Homo sapiens: one gene and its partners. The protein of the gene in region 5 purifies or fractionates together with the protein of the main gene of each other region. This does not show direct contact. Each region holds a gene or a part of one and is shown on either strand. Other genes may lie near its edges. The genes, in order: ALCAM, LETM1, TTYH3, DNM3, CDKAL1, RAP1B and BPIFB1.

What was found.
Region 1: the proteins of CDKAL1 (region 5) and ALCAM purify together in Homo sapiens (affinity purification with mass spectrometry; one large-scale study listed by BioGRID and IntAct). This does not show direct contact.
Region 2: the proteins of CDKAL1 (region 5) and LETM1 purify together in Homo sapiens (affinity purification with mass spectrometry; one large-scale study listed by BioGRID and IntAct). This does not show direct contact.
Region 3: the proteins of CDKAL1 (region 5) and TTYH3 purify together in Homo sapiens (affinity purification with mass spectrometry; 2 studies listed by BioGRID and IntAct, with this or other methods). This does not show direct contact.
Region 4: the proteins of CDKAL1 (region 5) and DNM3 purify together in Homo sapiens (affinity purification with mass spectrometry; 2 studies listed by BioGRID and IntAct, with this or other methods). This does not show direct contact.
Region 6: the proteins of CDKAL1 (region 5) and RAP1B purify together in Homo sapiens (affinity purification with mass spectrometry; one large-scale study listed by BioGRID and IntAct). This does not show direct contact.
Region 7: the proteins of CDKAL1 (region 5) and BPIFB1 purify together in Homo sapiens (affinity purification with mass spectrometry; 2 studies listed by BioGRID and IntAct, with this or other methods). This does not show direct contact.

Annotation. Positions count from the first base shown.
Region 1 is NC_000003.12:105,534,409-105,537,908, forward strand, and holds part of ALCAM (CD166 antigen isoform 1 precursor), read left to right. Parts: intron 1-254; coding exon 255-437; intron 438-3,500. UniProt on the Homo sapiens protein: Cell adhesion molecule that mediates both heterotypic cell-cell contacts via its interaction with CD6, as well as homotypic cell-cell contacts. Promotes T-cell activation and proliferation via its interactions with CD6.
Region 2 is NC_000004.12:1,846,157-1,849,656, forward strand, and holds part of LETM1 (mitochondrial proton/calcium exchanger protein precursor), read right to left. Parts: intron 3,054-3,500; coding exon 2,993-3,053; intron 1-2,992. UniProt on the Homo sapiens protein: Plays an important role in maintenance of mitochondrial morphology and in mediating either calcium or potassium/proton antiport. Mediates proton-dependent calcium efflux from mitochondrion.
Region 3 is NC_000007.14:2,634,986-2,638,485, reverse strand, and holds part of TTYH3 (protein tweety homolog 3), read right to left. Parts: intron 1-3,500. UniProt on the Homo sapiens protein: Calcium-independent, swelling-dependent volume-regulated anion channel (VRAC-swell) which plays a pivotal role in the process of regulatory volume decrease (RVD) in the brain through the efflux of anions like chloride and organic osmolytes like glutamate.
Region 4 is NC_000001.11:171,847,998-171,851,497, reverse strand, and holds part of DNM3 (dynamin-3), read right to left. Parts: intron 1-3,500. UniProt on the Homo sapiens protein: Microtubule-associated force-producing protein involved in producing microtubule bundles and able to bind and hydrolyze GTP. Most probably involved in vesicular trafficking processes, in particular endocytosis.
Region 5 is NC_000006.12:21,195,457-21,198,956, forward strand, and holds part of CDKAL1 (threonylcarbamoyladenosine tRNA methylthiotransferase), read left to right. Parts: intron 1-2,564; coding exon 2,565-2,648; intron 2,649-3,500. UniProt on the Homo sapiens protein: Catalyzes the methylthiolation of N6-threonylcarbamoyladenosine (t(6)A), leading to the formation of 2-methylthio-N6-threonylcarbamoyladenosine (ms(2)t(6)A) at position 37 in tRNAs that read codons beginning with adenine.
Region 6 is NC_000012.12:68,652,399-68,655,898, forward strand, and holds part of RAP1B (ras-related protein Rap-1b isoform 1 precursor), read left to right. Parts: intron 1-1,713; coding exon 1,714-1,854; intron 1,855-3,500. UniProt on the Homo sapiens protein: GTP-binding protein that possesses intrinsic GTPase activity. Contributes to the polarizing activity of KRIT1 and CDH5 in the establishment and maintenance of correct endothelial cell polarity and vascular lumen.
Region 7 is NC_000020.11:33,307,214-33,310,371, reverse strand, and holds the end of BPIFB1 (BPI fold-containing family B member 1 precursor), read right to left. Parts: intron 665-3,158; coding exon 605-664; 3' UTR 501-604; downstream 1-500. UniProt on the Homo sapiens protein: May play a role in innate immunity in mouth, nose and lungs. Binds bacterial lipopolysaccharide (LPS) and modulates the cellular responses to LPS.

The DNA of each region.
Region 1 (3,500 bases), on a different chromosome or scaffold from region 5:
AGGAAATAATTTCTGTATATGGCATGATCTAGAAGTTAATTAAGTGAGTGGGAAAAGGGATTCCAGGATTCTATTTCTGTGTCTCTGATTCACGGTTTTGAAACGACATCTAACCTCACTACATGTCAATTTTCTCTCCTGCTGAATACAGTTAGAAGGAAAAAAAACACTTCTCAAAGGTGTGGTGCTGTTTCGTTAAGGATTGTGATTGTCAGATGAAAGACCCTATCATCAGTGTTCTTTATTTTCTTCAGCGGTGGTCATAATTTTTAAAAAGGAAATGGACCCAGTGACTCAGCTCTATACCATGACTTCCACCCTGGAGTACAAGACAACCAAGGCTGACATACAAATGCCATTCACCTGCTCGGTGACATATTATGGACCATCTGGCCAGAAAACAATTCATTCTGAACAGGCAGTATTTGATATTTACTGTAAGTAATTCAATATATAATTATGCTATTTAATGTATTAGAAATAATATTCAAATGCTATTAATCTTTGAGGTCCCAATCCAATTACTCTTTGAATTCTGCTTCCAGTCTGCACCCCAAATTGATGGCACCCAAATAATCTCTTCCTCTTTAGGAGACCATAGCATGAATAAACATTTATCCATCCTATAATATCTTTCACTCTCTACATTTTATCTATGAGTGTCTCTTCTGAATTCCACTACACACTAAGTTCTTTAAAGATAAGATCTATAACTTATTTTCTGGATGAATGACAGACAAATATAGACTTTAACTGGCTTTCTAAATAAGAGATTACCATTTTAATGAAGAAATTTATTTTAATAATAAGATCAATTGCATAAGTTTGATAGGATGTTGTATTACAAGACATTTTACTTAACTAAATTGTGTATTTGAAACAGAGTATTTGTCTACAAAGGAATCTTCATGGTCATCTGTTCTAACTTCATTATTTTAGTTAGTAAAGTGAGGCACAGAGTCTTGCCCTAAATTAGCTGTAGATATTAGAATAGAATCTTTTTCTCCATTGCTGTGCTTTCCTTGTAAGACAGGTGCCAAGATAATCTAATGATTAGAAGCAAAAATTCTGGAATTCTAGTCCCAGCATTATCAATTACCATTTCTTGAAAAGTAGCTTAATTACTCTACATCTCAGTTTTCTTACTTTAAAATGGGAAAAATATAATACCTAACTGATAGTGTTGTTATAGAGAGTAAGTGAAATCACAAATCAAAAATAGCATGCTACATCACACATTAAATTGTCATTATTAAGTACTTTATTATTATTATTATATGGTCATTATCACAATATAAACATAGAGCTGAAGATATTTGGGGGGAAAATGCAATAAAGGATTTTCTTCTTATTATTAATTTATCTAAAATTTTTGTGATACTGGCATGTGTTCTACAGTAACCTAGCACTTCTACATCTATTTTAGAGAAAAGCCAGGAATGCCTGCTGAGCCTTTCGAAAGAATCACCTCACCTACATTTCTTTTTTTGGTTCCCTAGGGCACAATATCTTATATGAGAACAAAAGTGAAATTCTTCCAAAGTTGCCCTAATATTAAAAGGTAGTTTTGCCTTAAACTTGGGAAATAAGTTTCAACTTGATTTAAACCCAAGAAATTAATATTTCATTATGTATAGCTTATCTAAAATCAAACTTTTTTAGGTGAAGGCAGAATTCTTTCTTTCTTTTTTTTTTTTTTGTGTGAGACATAGTCTCACTCTGTTGCCCAGGCCAGAGTGCAGTGGCGTAATCTCAGCTTACTGCAACCTCCACCTCTTGAATTCAAGTGCTTCTCCTGCCTCAGCCTCCCAAGTAGCTGGGATTAGAAGCGCATGCCACCACACCCTGCTGATTTTTGTATTTTTAGTAGAGGTGGGGTTCCACCATGTTGGTCAGGTTGGTCTCGAACTCCTGACCTCAGGTGATCTGCCCACCTCAGCCTCCCAAAGTACTGGGATTACAGGTGTGAGCCACCAAGCCCGGCCCAGAATTCTTTCTGTTAGAAATATTCAATTGGAAATAAACCATATTAGTGTAAGTGTAGGTGTACAACACAGGAGAGAACATCAAGATAAGTAATAAGAATTGGGAAATTGGCTTCAGAAAGAATAGAAATATCTGTGAGTATGAGGCATGCAGAGTTGGGTAGACGGAGAAGTTCTTGAATGGATACGAAGAAAATGATTTTATCATGCTGGCTGTGTAAGGTGCACTTGTCATGGCTTTTAAGAAGCCACAGTGGGCTTCATGGTGAAAACACGAAGCACAAAGAAGCAGTTTAAGACAGTCCTCACATTCAAGGAGTGTACTACTCCAGTAGAGAAACAAGACACCTACATCAGAAGGAAATTGCCAATGCAAGGTTGTAAGGGTAAAAGTCTTAGGAACTCAGTATTAAGAGTCTTGAGGGCTCAGGTGCCCAAGGACAGTGGTTCTCAAACTGTAGTGTAAATCAGAAGAACATGAAGGACTTGTTAGAGCACAGATTACTGCACCCTGGCCTTGAGTTTCTGATTTAGTGGGTATAGGACGGTGATTGACACTCTGCATTTGTAACAAATTCCCTGATGGTGCTAATGCTGCTGATCTGAGGACTACGAGTGGAGAACCACTGCTCTAGGAAGACTTCAGAGAACAGAAGAAGAGTGCTAAATGGAAAGGAGAGACGAGTCCATTTCAAGAAAAAAAAATTGGCCAATTCATCTTGAGAAAGCTTGAGAAAAATGCACCAGTCCACTCCTTTCTTACCCTATTCAATCAGTAACGAGGTTTTAGAGAATCTAGCTCTTTAATCTTTGTTTTGATCTGATTTCTGCCTTCTGACACTGCCTACGTTTATGCCACCATTCCTCATTGCCTCTATTCCTGCGATGGATTTCAAAGTAGTATTTTTCCAATGAATTGCAAAATAGTATTTCTCTTGTCTGCCCACCATTCTCTGTTCACCCCCAAATAAACTGCCCTCCAAACTGCTGCCAGAAATATTTTTCTAAAACACAAATGTGACAAAAACTTCTCAGTGACTCCCCAGAGCTCTCAGATTAATATCCTTCCCCCTCCCCCAATTGCAGTATGCCTTGAGTTCGTTTTAGCCATGGTCCTACAGTATGTCTCAACCCTCATCACTGCCTGTATCCACTGTGGTCTGTTCTACTTTCCAGATTCCTTCTGTAGAGTAATACTTACATGCCTATGCATATGCTGTCATTTTCCCACCTTTATCATTTAGCAAATACCCATTTATGTGTCAAAACCCAGCTCCAGGGTCAGTTCCTCCAGGAAGCTTCCTAGTCTCATGTAATGATGGCTACCAGGATCCCTATGCTTGTGTCATATGCAGGTTTTATGTGGTCATACTCTTAATTATTAAGTTTGGTGTCTTTACAAATAGAGGAAAAGTTCATTGAGGCAGGGTTTTCAACTTCCTAATTCCAGCACTTAAGGCTTGCACAATATAGATGCCAAACAAATGAATAAATGAAGAAGGACTGTAGGATAAA
Region 2 (3,500 bases), on a different chromosome or scaffold from region 5:
TCATCCATAATTCTTGATAAGTAGACAAGTCCATCAAAACAGCTGTACAGTCCTCATTGTTTAAATTTTTAAGTAGATGTTCAAAATTGGGAACTTTAAAAAAAGTTACGTGAATAAAGTACAGCTTTTATGTTTTGTTGTTAGCCCAGGCTGGAGTACAGTGGCGCCATCTTGGCTCACTGCAACTGCCACCTCCCGGGTCCCGGTTCAAGCAATTCTCCTGCCTCAGCCTCCTGAGTAGCTGGGATTACAAGAACATACCACCATGCCCAGCTGATTTTTGTATTTTTATTAGAGATGGGGTTTCACCATGTTGGCTAGGCTGGTCTTGAACTCTTGACCTCGTGATCTTCCCGACTCAGCCTCCAAAAGTGTTGGGATTACAGGTGTGAGCCACCGTGCCCGGCCAGCATTTATGTTTTAGTATGAAATTTAAATGCTAAAAAGTTGCTTGACAAATTCAACATCCATTCCTAATAAAAAGAGTAACAGACAGAACAAAGATTACTTAAACCCAAAAGCTAACATCATATGTCACAAACACTAGATCCTGTATTTTCTGCTATTGTGATACCGCATGACTGACTACAGCTGTTCTGACACAGATCTGGCTACTGAGCTAAGAAATGAAACCACCTCAGAAGCAGAAGCCCTGGGAAAGAAGAGGCAGATGATTACTATGTACTAAGATCACAGCCATAAACTAAACCTGGGCTGCTACAAGAGCTGAACAAATAACAGGAAAGGGGCCAGATACAAGAAAATTGTACAACTTAGCAACTTACGGGACAGCAATGATCACTTAGAAAAGATAATGAAAAGAATTAATGAAAATAATAAACATCTGGGAATTATCTAAAATGCAATGCATGTGGCCTATACAAAGAAAACAGGCCGGGTGCAGTGGCTCACACCTGTAATCCCAGCACTTTGGGAGGCCAAAGGCAGGAGGACTGCTTGAGTCCAGGAGTTCAAGAGCAGCCTGGACAACATAGTGAGAACCTGTCTCTACAAAAAATACCAAAAAGAAAAAAATTTAGCAAGGCATGTTGGTAATGCCTGTAGTCCCAGCTACTCAGGAGGCTAAGGTGGGAGAATGGCTTGAGCCTGGGAGATCAAAGCTGCAGTGAGCCATGATTGCACCACTGCACTCTAGCCTGGGCAATGAACAGAATGAGATCCTGTCTCAAAAAAAAAAAAAAAAGTAATATTCCTTCCCAACTGGTTTAATGACACTTCAGATACAATCCCAAAAAGACTGTTTTAGAAGTAAAATGGTTCAGCTCATCTAGAAGGAAGGTCCAGACTGACGAGGTTTGGGGGAACTGGTCCCCAGGGAGGAACAACTGCTGGAGAACTCACTAAAGAAAATAACGGGAGCAGCTAGGCGCAGTGGCTCACACCTGTAATCCCAGCACTTTGGGAGGCCGAGGTAGGTGGATCATCTGAGGTCAGGAGTTTGAGATGAGCCTGGCTAATGTGGTGAAAATTTTGTACTTTTGTACTAAAAATGCAAAAATTAGCTGGGTGTGGTGGCGGCGTCTCTAATCCCAGCTACTAGGGAGGCTGAGGCAGGAGAATCGCTTGAACCCGGGAGGCAGAGGTTGCAGTGAGCCGAGATTGCACCACTGCACTCTAGCCTAGGTGACAAGAACAAAACTCGGTCTCAAAAAAAAAAAAAAAAAAAAAAAATTAGCTGGGTGTGGTGTGCGCGCCTGTAATCCCAGCTACTTGGGAGGCTGAGGCAGATAACTGCTTGAACCCGGGAGGTGGAGATTGCAGTGGGCAGAGATCACGCCACTGCATTCCAGCTTGGTGACAGCGCGAGACTCTGTCTCAAAAAAAATAAAAATAAAAAAAAAAAAGAAAATGCAACCTTAAGGAAAAAGACATAAGAAAACCAATTTCTTTTCTCATCCAAAGTTATAATAAAACGTTATTCGTGGACCTTAAAGTTGCAGTTTCTGCCAGGCATGGTGGCTCACACCTATAATCCCAGCACTTTGGGAGGCTAAGGCAGGCAGATCACGGGAGGTCAGGAGTTCAAGACCAGCCTGGCCAACATGGTGAAACCCCGTCTCTAATAAAAATACAAAAATTAGCCAGGTGCGGCCGGACGCGGTGGCTCATGCCTGTAATCCCAGCACTTTGGGAGGCCATGGCGGGCGGATCACGAGGTCAGGAGATTGAGACCATCCTGGCTAACACGGTGAAACCCCATCTCTACTAAAAATACAAAAAATTAGCCGGGCGTGGTGGCGGGCGCCTGTAGTTCCAGCTACTTGGGAGGCTGAGGCAGGAGGATGGCATGAACCCGGGAGGTGGATCTTGCAGTGAGCTGATATTGCGCCACTGCACTCCAGCCTGGGTGACAGAGCGAGACTCCGTCTCAAAAAAAAAAAAAAAAAAATTAGCCAGGCGCAGTGAGGCATGCCTGCAATCCCAGCTACTCGGGAGGTTGAAGCAGGAGAATCACTTGAACCTGGGAGGCGGAGGTTGCAGTGAGCCAAGCATGTGCCACTGCACTCCAGTCTGGGTGACAGAGCAAGGCTCTGTCTCAAAAAAAAAAAAAAAAAAAAAGAAAAAAAAAAAGTCGCAGTTTCCAAGAACCTACAGACATTAAATGAGACTTGCTGTACATCAAAATACTGACACTGGGCACTTTGAGGGCACAGTTGCCAGTGCCCACTCCAACTGGGAGTCCAACAATTAAATTCCATTTAATTCCTGTTAGGGGACAGGAAGCCTTCTGTCCCCAGCTCTCCAAGTGCAACTGGGCACTGAGGTTAGGAATGTTTCTATACTGTCTATAGATTCACTGAGGCATGTGACAATCATTTTCAAAATGGAAAGATAAAGGTTTAAAAGAAACAAAGAACAGGAAAGTAGGATACACTGTTTCCCTCAAAAATCAAGAGTCACTCGTGACTCTCCACCATTTTCAAACCCTGTTTTCAAACAGACAGGTGCAGAGTGATACTGATTTACTCACAGGCAGTTCCTCAACCCCAGGGTGCTGGCACAGCTGAGATGAGCAGGATCCCCTGGACTACCTGTAACAGGAACAGGGGAAAATAAATGAGTAGTAAATCAGGGATTTATACTGATACCTTTTTTTGTTGTTGGTTTTTGGAGTTTCGCTCTTGCGCCCAGGCTAGAGTGCAATGGCGTGATCTCGGCTCACTGCAACCTCCACCTCCTGGGTTTAATTGATTCTCCTGCCTCAGCCTCCTGAGTAGCTGGAATTACAGGTGCCCACCACCATGCCCAGCTAATTTTTTTTTTTTAGTAGAGACAGGGTTTCATTCACCATGTTGGCCAGGCTGGTCTCAAACTGCCGACCTCAGGTGATCCGCCCGCCTTGGCCTCCCAAAGTGCTGGGATTACAGGCATGAGCCACCGTGCTCAGCCTTTTGTTCATTTTGATTTATTTGACTTTGCCCAGGCTGGAATGCAGTGGTACAGTCACGGCTCCCTGCAGCCTTGAACTCCTGGGCTCA
Region 3 (3,500 bases), on a different chromosome or scaffold from region 5:
AGGCCAGAGAGGCAGCCCTGGGGCTGAGGCTCAGAGCCGCTCCTGCCCGTCTCCCCACAGGCCGGGCCCCTTTCCTGCACCCTGTAGCCGGGGGACCCCAGCTCTCCCGCTGCCCACGCCCGCCCTCCCCCTCGTGCAAGGAACAGACACCAAAGAGCTGCAGCAAGCGTGTCTATTTTGGTCCCCGTGCTCCGACACATCTCCCAGCGTGACACCCGGAAAATCCCCTGCTCTTCCCACTTGTCTGCAGCCCTCTGCACCAGCTGCCTGGGGACCGGGCCCCAGGCCTCAGACCCAGCCAGGAGCCGCCAGACTGGAGCCCCATCTCCGGGATCAGCTCCCTACCAGGGAGAGGCAGCCCAGAGGGCACGGCCGAACCCCAGACACAGGGCTGCAGGGCTCAGAGCTGGGTGCACCCCAGAACTTCAGGAGTGCTCTTCCACGATGGCCAGGAACCCAGCCAGCGTGCACAGGCCCGAGGGGGGCAGAACGGCTAGGGGCACTGTGGCTGGTACCCTCCTCAGAGGCCGAAGGCACTGGCACTCTGTGGGTGGCCCGGCTTCCTCCCACACCCTCGGCCAACATGGGCCTGACCCAGCCACAGTGGGTGCTGCCCCACAGGACTCAGGTCTCAGCCAGCCTCCCAAGACTGTGAGAAGCCCCCTCGGATGGTGTGAGGCCCAGCACAGGGCCTGGGTGGGCTCCCTGCAGAACATAGCGGCAGGCCCGGGTACAGGAGGCCCTCCTGTGACCCTCCCACACCCACCATCCACCCGCTGTCACATGCCAATTCCCCGGTGGCCACGTCAGGCACTTCCCATGTCCTTGACCCCAGGCCCCTGGCTGCAGATTCGGTTCCTCTTCTCTAGCCGAGGCCTCAGCAGAACTGACGGTGGGGCAGGTGGGGGAAGTGTAGATGCCCCTGAGCCCCCTAAACCTGCACCCCTGGGTTCACGAACTGTGCTGACGCTGTATCCACTGGGACGGACGTGGCTGGGCTGCAGCTGGAACCCGTGCCCAGTCTTCCGGCCCCCCATGCTGGCCGGCCCCCGTTTCTGCTTATGTCGGGGACACAGTGTCCACCTCCCAGGGCCACTGGGTGGCTCTCCAAGAAAAGTGCTTTAGAAACGAGCAGCACAAGCATCCGGGGAGAGCCGCCGTGGCCTGGGGAACCAAGCTGCAGGGCTCCCCGCTCCCCCAGAGCCTGACCAAGAGCCCCCGGCCGGGGGTCAGAGCGGCTGACACTGCAAATCCCTTAGACGGGGTTGGCTGGCAGGGCCTGCCCAGGGGTCAGGGGAGGAAGAAGGGTCACCATGGAGATGCCCAGAAGAGGGGTCCTAGAGCTGGCCCTCGAGTCTCAGGCGAGTGGGGGGCAGGCGGGGGTCCCGCACACACAGACTGGAGTGGCCCCTGGTGATGCTAGAACTGGGGAGATCAGGGAGCCAGCACCCTGAGCAAGAATAACCACCCCAACATCCACACCTACAAAAAGCCGTGAAGACCTCGGGGACTTCTAGAGGGTCCCAGGCTGCTGCACTCCAAGGAAGGGGCTTGAGAACCCCAGAGTCTCCTGGGGACAGAGGTGGCCAGAGTACCCTCAGAACCACAAAAACCAGGAGCCCAGATATAGGAACCCTTGATGCGGGCAGCGGCCGGGCCAAGGGTGGCCTGACACCCACCCCAAGCAGGTCCAGGGCCCACAGCTTCACACCCCCTGGCCAAAAGGCAAGCTCAGCCAATCGGAGTCTCCCCAGGAATGCAGACACCGGCCAAGATGGAAATCCTGAGTGGACTGGGACCAGCCATCAGGGGCTTCCTGCCCACCTCCACCCCCCAATGCAGGGTCCCATTCGCTGTACACCCCCAGCCTAGTTCATCAGCTCCTGTCCACTCAGGGATTGCTCCTGAAGCTTCCACCCAGCTCCCCGGGGGCCTCCGTGTCTGGCCCGCTTCTGTCATCTGTAGGTACAGAATCCTGCCTGGCACCGTGGGACGCTGGACAAGCATCTGGAACACGGTCCAAAGTACGAGACATGTCAAAAGCAATAGGATTCCAGTTCTCAGGGACACCCACCCTACAGCTCTATGCTCTTGGACTGAACCCAGCTGGAGGGACGCTTCTGTCTCACGCTCTTCCCTTTTCCCCAAATGTTCCATGAACGTGTACTGCTTTCGTAAATGACAAGACAGGCGACAGGCGACCAACACTGCCGTTTTAACCAGAACTCATTTCCTTCTGATGAGTGGGGAGGATGATAACAGGCCAGCCCTGCCCCAGGGAACTGCCCCCCAGGCTGCAACTGGGCACAAGGCTGACCTCACCTTGTGGCGGCACAGACAGAGGTGTTGTGCTCTTAGGAGCCAGGCTCCCAACTCTGCTAGGAGAACACTGGCCCTACTCCCAGAGCTCAGATCCCCTCTGAGTGGCCATCCAGCCTGGGCTGGCACAGTGCCTGGAACAGAGGGCTCACCAGTTCCTGAGGCAGCACATTCCCCGTGCGCAGTCAGACCAGAGCGACCCTCTGGCACGTGGGGCTGAGGCCTCTCCCCGAGGCTCAAGCTTCTCTCTGCCTCAGGGCCTTTGCACCTGCCGTTCCCCCAGCCCAGAAGCTCTTCCCCAAGGTCTCTGTATGGTGACCTCAGTCTTATCATTAAGGTCTCAACAGAAACATCTGGGCATTCCAGGCTCTAGTGGAAAACACGTCCCCCATGCTAGGCAAACTGAGGCAGGGCCCACTATCTGCCCTGGAAGGCAGATGTCCCAGTGAAACCATCACCTGCCAGGGCCAGCACGGCCCATGGAGGAGTCAGAAATGAGCAGGCAAATCCTAACCCTCTGATTGTCGGCAGCCGGGCTTGCAACCTCCATGGCAAGCCAGTTAACACCACCTCCTGCAGGAAGCCTTCCCTGACCACTGGGCTCCCACCGCCTGGGTTCGCAACCCACCACAGTCCGTAGCTGTTGTCCTGCATCTGGCCTGCCCTGAGCTGGAGGAGACAGCCCGAGAGAGAGGCTGAGGTCAGTGGGCATGAACTTGATCCCTGCCTGAGGACACGGGGTCACAAAGGGCTGGTGGGAGCTGAGCAGGCAGGCCTCCCCCGAATAAAGCCCAGGACAGTGTCTGGACCACCCAAGGTCACGCAGGAAGAAGCGACAGAGCGAGGGTGCAGGCCTGCGATGCTCTAGCTGAAGAGAAGGCTCTGCTGCCCTCAAGGGCCCCTGCCCGGGGCAGGACAGCCAGACCCACTTGACATTCAGGACTCACTATGCAGCACTGACTGGCCCCGGGCCACGCCAGAGGCCTCAGGCCCAGCCCTGCCAGCTCAGCTGCAGGGCCACCAGGGAGTCTCAGGCCTCCTGTGGGCCTCCAAATCCCTCCTGTGAACAACAGCCCCCCATTCACTCAGATGCTCAGGCAGCACGGGAGCCCCTCTCGACAGTCACTGGCTGGGGAGCTGCACAGAGCCGACCCCAGATGCCCCTCCACCCCCTGCCCTCT
Region 4 (3,500 bases), on a different chromosome or scaffold from region 5:
AGGTTGCAGTGAGCTGAGATCATGCCACTCACTGCACTTCAGCCGGGACGACAGAGCGAGACTCTGTCTCAAAAAACAACAACCGTTCTAATCCAAGCCCACTCAACTATTCTCAACCAATTTATTGATGACAAAGGTATGTTTCAGCTTAGATAAATGGCTTGTACAGAGTCAAGTAGCTGATTCATTCAGTTAGCTCCTGCCATATGCCGGCACTGCACTACGGAAAATGATAAAGGAGACACAGCTCCTGGCTTCGTGGAAGCTGCAAATAGTTGAGCAGACAGAGGAGGCAACCAACTGTTCGGTAGATTCCTGTGCAGTGAAATATTAACAAGGGCCACCAAGGAGGGGCCTCTAAATCAGACAGATAGAGCTGAGAAGACCAGCAGATGACAGCAGAGGCCAGACTAAACCCAGCTCTCACTGTTCTTGGCATGCTACCTTGCTTACCTGTGGCACACTTTGAACAAATATGCAGGGACCACCTGCCACAGGGAGCAGGAGAGAACCAAAGCCACCCCAGACTAACTCATTCACAAATACTCCTAATTCTCACAGTGGTTGAACCTTACCAGTCTTTTCTCTTCGTATGTCCCTACAATCTGGTGGACACTCACAAAAGCATTGCTTCCTCCTTCTCATCTCCCCACTTACTCTGCAAGCAAGGAACTCATGATCCTTCTGCCACTTCCCTTCTTAACTTACTCTGAGGAAAAAAAAAAAAAAACAAAGCCCTAAGAGAATATGTAACTTTCAAAGTACATAATTCAAATCAAGTACCCACACATACACATTTTACATGATATGTTTTTAGGATTAAATAAACAGGCTAAAGTTTCTTAAGTTGAATTTACAAGGACTTCAGTATGCAGGTCGTTCTATCGGTATTTAGATGAGAATGCAGAAATCTCACCACACAATTGTTGCTGTCCTGGTAGTAGGACTCAGAACCATGAATGCTAGGATCTATAAAAATAATTGCAAGCCTTTGCCCCTCTTTTCAAAATATGAAGAGAATGGGTCTTAGTTTTATTAACCAGAAAACATAAACAGACACACATATACAGGGTTCTAAACCTCCACTAGATAAGAAACCCAAAGCTATTCTTTTCAAAGCTTCTGAGGTATATCTAGTAACTTAAAAATAATGTAATTCCAAACAGAACCAGCTGACTAGCTCAGAGCTAAAACTGATGGTTAACAAGTTATGGGAATGTCAATCAAATCAGAATATGAATCTTTCCACTGGAAAAAAGAGTGATTTGGTATTATTTCAACATCTACTACAAAAATGTTGGTACTTCTTTTAAGATCTAATTACACCTTACCTCCTGAACACTTGGTTGTAGATGGTTTCCTTGGGCTCAGACCATACTCTTGCTAAGTAGTCCTGCTTCGCCAACTAGACTTCCTCAATTGTTTTTCCCCCTTCTACACCATCTTTGCCTGCAATTTCATCTAACATTTCCAAAAGAAAAGGAATATGCTAAGAATGGTTTACTTTATATCACAGCATCAAATATCTTCCTTAAAATATATTCTCTAGGAGAAAACTAAAAATAATGTCAGAAAAATTCATTTTAATTCTATTATCTGTTATTAAGTCTATTTTGTTCATTAATTTCTAGTACTCACCATGTGACCCCAGTATGTCACCCAACTTTTTTCCAGCTTAATCTTTTTTATTTCTAAATTAAAGTAAACAAAACATGCTTTTGCTATCTTCTCACAGAAATTCGAAGGATTAATGAAATGATAAAAACTGCTTTGGAACTCTTGGAAGGGAAGAGTATACAAACTGGGTTCACTTTGTATATATTGGTTTAAAAAAAAAAGAACACATTGTGATAATGCATTTAACGAATGTGGGCAATGCTTTCTTTAAAGAAGGCTCAAATATATTCTATTAGCCTTATCTACAAGTAAGTATTTTGATGCAACTGTAATTTTCCAACATTCACGAAAAGAATTTGCAAATACGCATTACCATCTGCCTCAACTTACTTTTGTTTTTAAAACACTCAAAAAATGTCCAGTCTAAATAAAAGATTTAAATTAAGAGCAATCAGTTATTGAATGCATACTATGGACCAGGCACTTGATACCATCTTACTCAGAACTCACACACAGATTAAAAGGTGAAGTCTGCAATCCCTATTTTGCAGATGAAGGAACTGAGGCCAAGTGAGGCTAGATTCCGTAATGAGGAGCCATGCTACCAGTGAGAGTCAGAGGCAGGACTCAAGAGCTGCCAGCAAAGCCTGCACTCCATCACCATGCTGTGATGACTCCTCTTCAAATACTCACTTTTGAGAAATCTAAAAAAATAAGCACCATAAACAAGTTTAGTCACCCATCAAATTACTTATCAAATAGATTAGTCTTTCAATTCCAAGCCACTGGAAGGATAAACAATGAGGTCCTTCAGGATACCTAGCTACTGCTATCATGTATATATATGCTATTCATGGGTATATCATGACCTTGAAGCAGTGGGAAATAAAAATGACACACTGTCACAAAGAAGCACTGAGGTACATTTTAAACCCTTGGAAATAGAGGACTTGCAGCAGGGATATTAGAGAAAAACAAGATCTAAAGCAATCCTGTATCATTCATATAATTCCGGAATTAAATGTATCATCATTTTCCTCAACAACTGCTCTGTTTTTGTTATCAATTAACACTAAAGACAATGCAATATTAATGCTTGTTGAAAAATTGTTAAAATAATCTCTATAACATTAATGGACCTCAATGTCACTCAATGCACTCTAAGAATGCAAACACACACACAAAAAGAATAGAAAACAGGCAAACTGAAGGATGCAGATTTGCTACACAAATACATCTTTATTTTACCTAAAAGTTCACCCACTTGTTTAAATAATAACATTTCCATTTAGATTATTTATTTACATACAACTTTTCAGAAGCTCGTGTTGGTTTAAGCAAGGCCTATTGATGACCATCTCAGGCATATCTTTCTAGCTAATGCCCACCTGGTGGATAAATATTAATAATGTGTAAAAACATCCAATATCTTATTTAGTCTTTTCCTGGGCCCATCTGTTCCCTAAAAGTCACGCTTTACTCACGAGTATACTATTTCAGTCAAATTAACTTGCCTAAGTCTGAGAAAAATTCTGCTCCCTGTCTCCACTATTCTGTATGGGAAAAAAAAGGTAATAAAATGCAATGTCACTGCTGGTCAACTATCAAGAAGAGTAATGAAAGAGAGTATCACGGAAGAGAAAAAGGCTGGCCCAATGCAAAGGGATGGGAAAAGGAGGAGGCAGGGTGAGGGTTGGAGGGAGGTGCTCTAAAACAATAACAGGAGGAAGAGAAGATGATGAACTGGCACAGGCCTCCCAGTTCCTAACATTAAGTTCCAAACCTAGCTCTGATTTCTTCTGACCTTGGGCAAATCTCTGGTTTCTCTGTATCCTACTGTGCTCCAGGAAGTTAGAGAAAATCAAGCCAGAGAAAAGCTTCTT
Region 5 (3,500 bases):
CTGGCCTCTGGAGATGTTTTTTTTATTTATTTATTTATTTATTTATTTATTTATTTATTTATTTATTTATTTGAGACAGGGTCTTATTCAGTCACCAATGCTGGAATGCAGTAGAATGATCACAACTCACTGCACCCTCAATCTGCCAGGCCCAAGCAATCCTTCCACTTCAGCCTCTCGTGTAGCTGGGACTATAGGCACACACCACCACACTCGGCTAATTTCTGTATTTTTTATAGAGACGGGGTTTTGCCATGTTACCCAGGCGGTCTCAAACTCCTGGACTCAAGTGATCTGCCCACCTCTGCCTCCCAAAGTGCTGGGATTACAGGCATGAGCCACCGGGCCCGGCCACTCTGGAGATTTTTAAGGGCCTTGCCAATGAGACTGGGGACACAAATAGGATGACTCCTCAGTTGAGGACACAAATAGGATGACTGAAAAGGTGTTTGCCACTATGAATTAGTGCACATTGCGGTTCTCCTGAGTCTCTTTGGCAAATAATAGTTAAATACTCACCTACAAATAGTTCTCTTATGGTTGATTAAAAGCCCAGCTTTCTACTATATAAACATAGCAAGTCTTTTTAACTCTGTATATATTACTGTCATTGTTATCATCTCCAGATGAAATAGAGCAGCCCAAACATGATGGGCCTTACTCTCCACGTTGATTCTAAGAAGAAGAAAGAAGCAGCATAGTTTTCAGTGGCTCTACAATTTCACATTGTTGTTAATTTCCTGAAAACTTGATGTTAAATGAAGTGTAATTGCAGATTTCCTTAAGAACCATTGACAGATACTTATCCTAAGTCATAAGCAACTCACACTGTGAAATGTGTGCAAACATTCTAAGTTTTCTTCTAGAAGAATATACTTCAGTGATACCCAATATTCACCAGCCCTTTTTGATAAACAGAGCCATTGAAGCTCAACATGGAAGTTGGGGGAAATTTCTTTTTTTACACTTGATTTTTTTAAGGGGATTAATGTTGCCAGAACTTCCATTGTTTTTCAGACAGTGAAAAGAGTCTTTAGTAAGTGTCATCTCAGAGACCTTACAACTTTTGGCTAAGAGGGCTATATTTTGAATGAGATAGTAAACTAGATAGTAAATTATGGTGTATTTAGGTACTGGCATTGTATGATAGAGAGGGGAGTTTGATTTGTTTTTTAATTGTTAGGTGGTCTATTTAGTGCAGCTGTGTTTATGTTTCCTTCATGGTAACCGCCTGAACATGGTGACAAGTCCCTACAAATGAGAATAGGAATTTTAAAAAATTATCTTGCCAGTGGGCTTTAATTTGGGGGGGTCATAATTATTAAGTAGCATTGGTAAAAATAATCCCCGGCACAGTCATTCAGTACAGTTGTTTTGCTGTATCAGACATTTTGACAACCTTGTAAAAAGAGTAACTGAGTCCAGGCATGGTGGCTCATGCCTGAAATCCCAGCACTTTGGGATGCCGAGGCAGGCGGATCACCTGAGGTCAGGAGTTCGAGACCAGCCTGGCCAACATGGCAAAACCCCGTCTCTACTAAAAATATAAAAATTAGCCGGGCATAGTGGCGCATGCCTGTAATCCCAGCTACTCGGGAGGCTGAGGCAGAAGAATCGTTTGAACCCGGGAGGCGGAATTTGCAGTGAGCCAAGATCATGCCACTGAACTCTAGCCTGGGTGACAGAGTGAGACTCTGTCTCAAAAAAAAAAAATAATAATAATAATAATACTTGATACCTTAAGTGCTGCATTTCACAGTAGAATAAACTTGGAAATTATAGAATTTCCTTAGAATAGTCACACTTCTTTACCCATTGTTTTGGCTGATTTACTTCTTTGCTATTAAAAATGGGTGCCTAGATCATAATGTACATCAATTCTGTGGAAAATTAGCAATTCCATGTTTTTGCTGTCTTTCTCTTTAAAAAATAATAAATGAACATGGGGTCATGACTGCAGCAAAGAGACAGTTGCCTGTGACAGAGAAAATGTATATAATAAGTAAATAGCTCTGTGAATTACTCAGTACTTTCAGAATTGTATGTAAGATATGAAATGTGGAGGTGCAAGGTCCTAATGACTAGTTTTCCGAGGCATTTTCTTTAGTGTTACATCCCTCATAACTCAAATGAATGTTTATTACTATTCTTTCATATTGCCAAAATATTTTCATGAATTTGGATTAGAAGCAGCTTGTTCTGGCTTGTTTTGCAACTTTGTTTCAGGAAACAAAGTGATATTTAGAAGATTTTTGTATGTCATAGAAGCTTTAATTATCTTACTTATGTTGAAGGAGATCAAATTCTGTTTCAGAGTTATGTAAGAAAATAAGAGTTTATACTATGCTAATTTTATGTTGCCAGATAATTAATGTCTTTCAAAAAATTTGAATCCGTGATTTGAACAGGGTTCGCTGTTAAATAACCAGCAATGTAGAGTCTACTTTAAATTCAAGAAGACGCTACTTGGTCCAGACCTACCTGGGCTAGCCTTTATTTTTATTTTTGGATTCACAGGTGTTTACCCTTATCTTTCCTTTCTTTCCCTCCCCTTCTCTCCACAGATTGGTGAAAGACAACAAGTGTTAGTAACAGAAGAATCTTTTGATTCCAAGTTTTATGTTGCACACAATCAATTCTATGAGCAGGTAAGAGGCACTTCAGTATTCTTGAGTTTTCTCCAAAGTGAGAAAGAGTTCTGAAAGTTTAAGCAAAGGGCATTTAAAGGGGAGAGTGTTGAATCTTGTCACAACAAGGCTGTTTTATCGCTTCAAGCCAGCCAGGCTAACATGGACTTTATCTTTGTGACTTACTCTACAATATGTTCTGTACAAAGGAATAGGTGTATTTAGTCTATTTTAGTTCACATTAATCTTTGACAGGACCAGCTTTAGGCTTTTGGGCGTTTGGAACCAGGCAATTAGCACTGCCAGAATTCCCACACCCTGGCAAAGCAGGGGGGAAAGTCCTGCTCAGACCACAGGAAGGATGTCTGCATGGGCGACAGCAGCATGAAAGGGCAGGGATTTCCTCTCGCTGGTACATCACCCGGACAGTTTTTTTAGTTGGTTGGTTGATTGGTTGGTTGGTTGGTTGGTTTTTTAGTTTTGTTTAGTTTTAGCATCTGTTTTTTTAACTTCTACCTTAATAAAAATGCTGGGAGCAGAGGAAAAGGAGTCTATTCCTTGGACTCAACTCTAATTGTATGAACAACTGTGCAGACCAGTGTGAGGATCAAACCAGCTTCACTGTGAGAGCTTTGAAGGCCATCCCTAGGGGCGCCCCCAATTACTAGCCCTCCTTCCCTGGCCATCTAAGTTGGCCTGCCTTTGCCCACCGAGGAGCCTGACTTCTGTTTCAGCATCAGGGTTTCTACTCCTCCAGGTGGGAGAGCAATTCAAAAGTGACTGAGGAAAAGAGAGTGCCTCTTTCAGGGTCATTGACCCTGGCAAGGGCCAAGGCCAGGGAAGAGATGGGATACGCCCTCCTCTCCCATCTTA
Region 6 (3,500 bases), on a different chromosome or scaffold from region 5:
CTGTGGAGATTGTGCCACTGCATTCCAGCCTGGGTGACAGAGCGAGACTCTGTGTCAAAAAAAAACATAAGACTACTAGTTGCTAAACTTTAAATCTTTTTGTTGTTGTTCCGTTGAATCCTTAATTTTATATTGGCCGGGCGCAGTGGCTCACGCCTGTAATCCCAGCACTTTGGGAGGCCAAGGTGGGTGGATCACTTAAGGTGAGGAGTTCAAGGCCAGCCTGGGCAACACAGTGAAACCCCGTATCTACTAAAAATATAAAAAAAATTAGCCGGGCGTGGTGTTACACACCTGTAATCCCAGTTACTTGGGAGGCTGAGGCAGGAGAATAGCTTGAACCCGGGAGGCGGAGGAAGTATATTGCACTTTTTGTAATTGCAGTGGGTCAGTTATTGAAAAGTTTAGAAAATGTGTTAGAAGAAAAATTTTCAGTCTCACTAGTACTTTTAAAACAATATATTACCATATTTCAAATAATACAGGCATACATTCATTCATCAGCAGCTGTGTGAAATATTTTGATTGAGCTGGGTATGATGGCTCATGCCTTGTAATCCCAGCACTTTGGGAGGTCAAAGGGGGGTGGATCACCTGAGGTCAGGAGTTCAAGACCAGCCTGGCTAACATGGTGAAACCCGTCTCTATTAAAATACAAAAATTAGCCAGGTGCAGTGGCAGGCACCTGTAGTCCCAGCTACTCGGGAGGCTGAGGCAGGAGAATCGCTTGAACCCTGGAGGTAGAGGTTGCAGTGAGCTGATAACACACCACTGCACTCCAGCTTGGGTGACAGAGTGAGACTCCATTTCAAAAGAAAAAGAAATATTTTGATTGGTATCTGTTCTCCTTCAACGTATTTATAGACAAACTAAATTTGTAGGTATGTGAAGATGAAGGGAAGATTTGTTCTCGGTGTATGGTATTCATTCAGCTAATGTTTGAATACCTGATACATGTCAGGCACTGTGTTGTTACCTTCAAATGCTCACAGTCTAGCAAAGAAAAAGTAGTGTGGGAAAATGGGATGGTCTAGATCATGCTGATGGAGCCCTACAGAACTACAGCATTTGAGTCATAGCTAATAGATTAACTTGGCAGATACAGTTGGGGTGCTTTATACATGATGATGTATTTTAAAAGCTGCCTTTAGTAACTTTTGGGGACAGGATATTTCTGTTCCACTTGAGTATATTTTTTGTATATAAATCGACTTTGGTGTATTGTTTTTAAATAGGAAACCTATTTCCAGCTGGGCGTGGTAGTTCACGCCTGTAATCCCAGCACTTTGGGAGGCCGAGACGGGCAGATCACAAGGTCAGGAGATGGAGATCATCCTGGCTAACATGGTGAAAGCCCGTCTCTACCGAAATACAAGAAAAAAATTAGCCGGGCATGGTGGTGTGCGCCTGTTGTCCCAGCTACTCGGGAGGCTGAGGCAGGGGAATCACTTGAGCCCGGGAGGCAGAGGTTGCAGTGAGCCGAGGTCGCGCCACTGCACTCCAGCGTGGTGACAGAGCAAGACTCCGTCTCAAAAAAAAAAAGAAACTAAAATGCCAATTTTTTCAAATAGTATCTTGTCATAGATTATAATTTTAACAAAGTTACATAATACTACAGTATTCTTCATTGAGCTATAATTATAGACTGTGAAAATTGTAAAAATAACTGTCAAAACATTATTGTTTTTTAACGTTCCTTTCTTTCTATTGTAGGAGCAATTTACAGCAATGAGGGATTTATACATGAAAAATGGACAAGGATTTGCATTAGTTTATTCCATCACAGCACAGTCCACATTTAACGATTTACAAGACCTGAGAGAACAGATTCTTCGAGTTAAAGACACTGATGATGTAAGCTGACTTCCAAATAAATATATTTTATTTCAAAACCCTGATTATAATTGTTTAAGTCTAAATTTAAATTCATTTTAAAGCTTGTGTATTTTGGTTGGGGGGGGGGTGTTGGTTTTTTTAAACTTTTTCCTTGAAAGGCAAAAATACCCATACATGTTTTCAAATATATATCATGTGGAAAGTGAGAAATTTCCTCCTTTGCCATTATCCTGTGAAAATTAAATGTTACACCCTTCCTTTTTTTTTTTTCCTTTGAGATGGAGTCTTGCACTGTTGCCCAGGCTGAAGTGCTGTGGTGCGATAGCTGTACCTCCCGGGTTCACGCCATTCTCCTGCCTCAGCCTCCCGGGTAGCTGGGACTACAGGCGCCTGCCACCATGCCCAGCTAGTTTTTTGTATTTTTAGTAGAGACAGGGTTTCACCATGTTAGCCAGGATGGTCTCGATCTCCTGACCTTGTGATCCGCCTGCCTCAGCCTCCCAAAGTGCTGGGATTTTAAAGGCAAGAAATACATTAGATTCTAACATTATTAATTTAGGTGCCCCTTCAGAGTCTACCATAATGGAGTTTAATTCCTCATCACACTAAATATAGCAGTGGTTCTCAAAATTGATTTTGCATCAGAATCACCTGTAGGACCAGTTAAAACAGATTGCTGGGCTGAGATCTCAGAGCTTCTGATTCAGTAGGTCAGCAGTAGGACCCAGGAATTTGCATTTCTAACAAGTTTCGAAGTGGTGTTGGTTTTGCTGATCTGCATACTGTAAGAACCAGGCTGGGCATGGTGGCTCACACCTCTAATCCCAGCACTTTGGGAGGCCAAGGCGGGTAGATCCCCTGAGCTCAGGAGTTCAAGACCTCCCTGGGCAACATAGCAAAACCCTGCCTTTACCAGAAATTTAAAAAAAAAAAAATTAGCCAGCATGGTGGCGCGTGCCTGTGGTCTCAGCTATTTGGGAGGCTGAGGTGGGAGGATCACTTAAGCCTGGGAGGTGGAGGTTGGCAGTGAGCTGAGATCACATCACTGCACTCCATCTAGGGTGACATAGTGAGACCCTGTCTCAAAATAAATACATAAATAAGACTCATTGTACTGCAGTTTAATTTTAGCAAATATTGTGAGAGCTGGGAGACACCCATGGTAAATGCTTTTATTTTCTGGACTTCTGAAACAAGGGAATTTGGGGGGACCCTACATAATTACAGCAACCTCAGGGAACATTTTTTAATTTGTAAATCCATTTAATAAGTGGCTTGATTTTTAGTAAATTTTGATTGGCTTTTTTTTTTTTTTTTTTGAGACGGAGTCTCACCCTGTCGCCCAGGCTGGAGTGCAATGGCACGATCTCAGCTCACTGCAACCTCTGCCTCCCAAGTTCAAGCAATTCTCCTGTGTCAGCCTCCCAAGTAGCTGGAATTACAGGCGTGTGTCACCATACCCAGCTAATTTTTGTGTTTTTAGTAGAAACAGGGTTTCGCCATGTTGGCCAGGCTGGTCTCCAACTCCTGACCTCAGGTGATCCACCCGCCTCGGCCTCCCAAAGTGCTGGGATTACAGGCGTGAGCCACTGTGCCTGGCCTTGATTGACTTTTTTAATACAAGACTATGAGAAACTAAAAATTCTATTTTGGGAGCCTTCCGT
Region 7 (3,158 bases), on a different chromosome or scaffold from region 5:
CCATGTATCTGGAACTGTTCTCTCATTTACTCCTCACCAAAGCCCTCCAAGGCAGAGACAATGACTATCCCCATTTTACGGAGAAGGAAACTGAGGCCCACAGAGGGGAAACTACATCCCAGAGTCAAAGAAGCATTAAGAGGCCAGCCAGAGCTCCAAGCCTAGTTCATCTGCCCCCAGATCCACATTGTTCAGAGAGTCCTCTGTCCACCACACTGCCAAGATAAACAAAACATATGTCCCCCACCCTAAAAGCCATCCCACTGAAGATGGTCTTGAGGCTGACATGAAGGCAGGTGGGAAGAGCTGGCTTTCTGATTCCTGAAGCACAGGGAGGTGGTCAAGACTGTGGACATCATCCACATGTGGCCCAGACATCACCCAGATTGGCTCAGATGTGCCTGAACATGACCCAGGTGTGGCTCAGCCATCCAGTCCCCAAGCCTGCCAGGGGCAAAATGACTCCTGTGCCGGGACAAAGAGACTCCAGACGGCAGGCATCACAGGCAAGTGTTTATTGATTGCAGAGAGGGATGGTCTATAGAGCTCACACCCATACTCCCAGCTGGGACCCAGCCTTCCCTGATGGCTGCCATCCAAGTCTTCACTGGGAGACAGGAGAGCTGGGTTTCCACAAGGAGGCTGGAGTAAGCACAAGGGCATCCTGGAATTGGAGGGGAAAAGTCAGAAAACAGGTTTCTTTAACCTTTTGCCTTGTGGTTTATGCTGGTTTTGTCCTCCATAAGGTGACTGCTGGCACCGGGGGACCATGACCCTGAACCCACAAATACAGAATTCTTAGAAGGGTCGGGGTGGAGGGTCTGTGTGTGAACATTAATGCCACACCAGGTCCTGATGTCATCTCCATTTTGCAGATGGGGACACTGAGACTTGAAGATGGCAAAAGCCCCTTTCCAAAGTCACGCACTCAGTAGGTGGCAGAAGTGGGATTTGCACTTAGCACCCGCCTTGATCACCCCCTGCTTTGGGCCCCTCCTCTGCATGAGCTAATGACAGTAAGGTGTCCATCTCAGTTAGCAGGCATTTACTAAACACCTACTGTGTGCAGCCACTGATCACAACAGAGAACAAAGCAGACAGAAACCCCTGCCTTCTTGAAGTTTTGGCTCCACTCTAGAGGGGGAGAGATGCCCCAGAGCCTGGCACACAGTGACTGTGAGCTGTTCTTCTTAAGGGTAGTATTTGGGAGCGAGGGTGACACTGCCATAGATCCTCTCCCCAGCAGATGCCACGGAGAGTCATTTGCTCACCAAGCATTTATTGAACACCTACTGTGTGCCAGGCCATGCTGAGCACCGGGGACAGAGGCATGGACAAGATGGACATGATCCTGGCCTTGAGCTGAGACCATCTGGCCACATGGTGTGTGTGTGTGTGTGTATGTGTATGTGCATGTGTAGTGTGTGTATGTGTGTATATGTGTATGTGTGCGTCTCTGTGTATGTGTGTGTATGTATGTGTGTATGTGTGTGGTGTGTGTGTAGTGTGTATGTGTGTGGTGTGTGTATTATGTGTGTGTGTATGTGTGTGTGTAGTGTGTATGTGTGTGGTGTGTGTATTATGTGTGTGTGTGTAGTGTGTATGTGTGTGGTGTGTATGTGTGCAATATGTATGTGTGTGTGTATGTATATGTATAGGTGTATAAAGGTGTGTGTGTGTATGTATGTGTATAAAGGTGTATGTGTTTGTATGTGCGTGTGTATGTATGTGTATAGGTGTATAAAGGTGTGTGTGTGTATGTATGTGTATAAAGGTGTATGTGTTTGTATGTGCGTGTGTATGTATGTGTATAGGTGTATAAAGGTGTGTGTGTGTATGTATGTGTATAAAGGTGTATGTGTTTGTATGTGCGTGTGTATGTATGTGTATAGGTGTATAAAGGTGTGCGTGTGTGTGTGTATATGTGTGTGTGCATGCATGCATCTCAGGCCTATGAGGTTACCTGCCTTGGATGTTGCCTCAGATCCTGGGCCTCCTTCCTCATCTTTCCTGGAACACCAACAATCCCTGCCTCAGGGCCTTTGCACTTGACATCTGATATGGTTTAGATCTGTGTCCCCGCCCAAATCTCATGTAGAACCCAATGTTGGAGGTGGGGTCTAAGCTGATTGGATCATGGGGCTGGTTTCTTGTGAATGGTTTAGCGCCATCCTCTTGGTGCTGTTCTCGTGATGGTGAGTGTGCTCTTGTGAGATCTGGTTGTTTAAAAGTGTGTAGCACCTCCCACCCCTTGCTCCTGCTTGGGCCATGTGATGTGCAGTCTTCCCCTTTGCCTTCCGCTATGATTGGAAGTTTCCTGAAGCCTCCCCAGAAGCTGAGCAGATGCCAGCATCGTGTTTCCTGTACAGCCTGCAGAACCACAAGCCAATTAAACCTCTTTTCTTCATGAATTACCCAGTCTCAGGTATTTATTTTCTTTCCTTTTTTTTTTGGGGGGGGGATGGATTTCACTCTTGTTGCCCAGGCTGGAGTGCAATGGCGTGATCTCAGGTCACTGCAACCTCCGCCTCCTGGGTTCAAGCAATTCTTCTGCCTCAGCCTTCCGAGTAGCTGGGATTACAGGTACCCGCCATCACGCCCAGCTAATTTTTGTATTTTTAGTAGAGACTGGGTTTTGCCATGTCGGCCAGGCTGGTCTCGAACTCTTGACCTCAGGTGATCTGCCCACCTTGGCCTCCCAAAGTGCTGGGATTATAGGCACAAGCCACTGAGCCCAGCCTCAGGTATTTCTTTATAGCAGTGTGAGAACGGCCTAATACGCTGTCCCTCTGACGGGACACTTCTCCCAGCTACCCACAGGGCTCACCCCTCACCTCCTCAGGCATTGGCTCAAATGTTACCTCCTCAGAGAGGCCCTCCCTGGCCACCCCATCTGAAACAGCACCCCCTTCCCTGACATCACTCTCTCCTCCTGAGCCTGCTTTATTTTTCTTCTCAGCCTTCCTCCACTCAGCCTGATGTTACATCTTTAGGGCTTGTGTATCTGCCTCTTCTGCTAAAAGGTAGGCTTGAAAAAGATGGGAGTGTTTTCCATTTGTTCATTTCGGTGGCCTCAAGCACTCAGAAGCATGGCTTGCCTATAGAAGACCCTCGAAAAATATTTAGTGAATTACTGAATGAATGAATGAATGAATGAA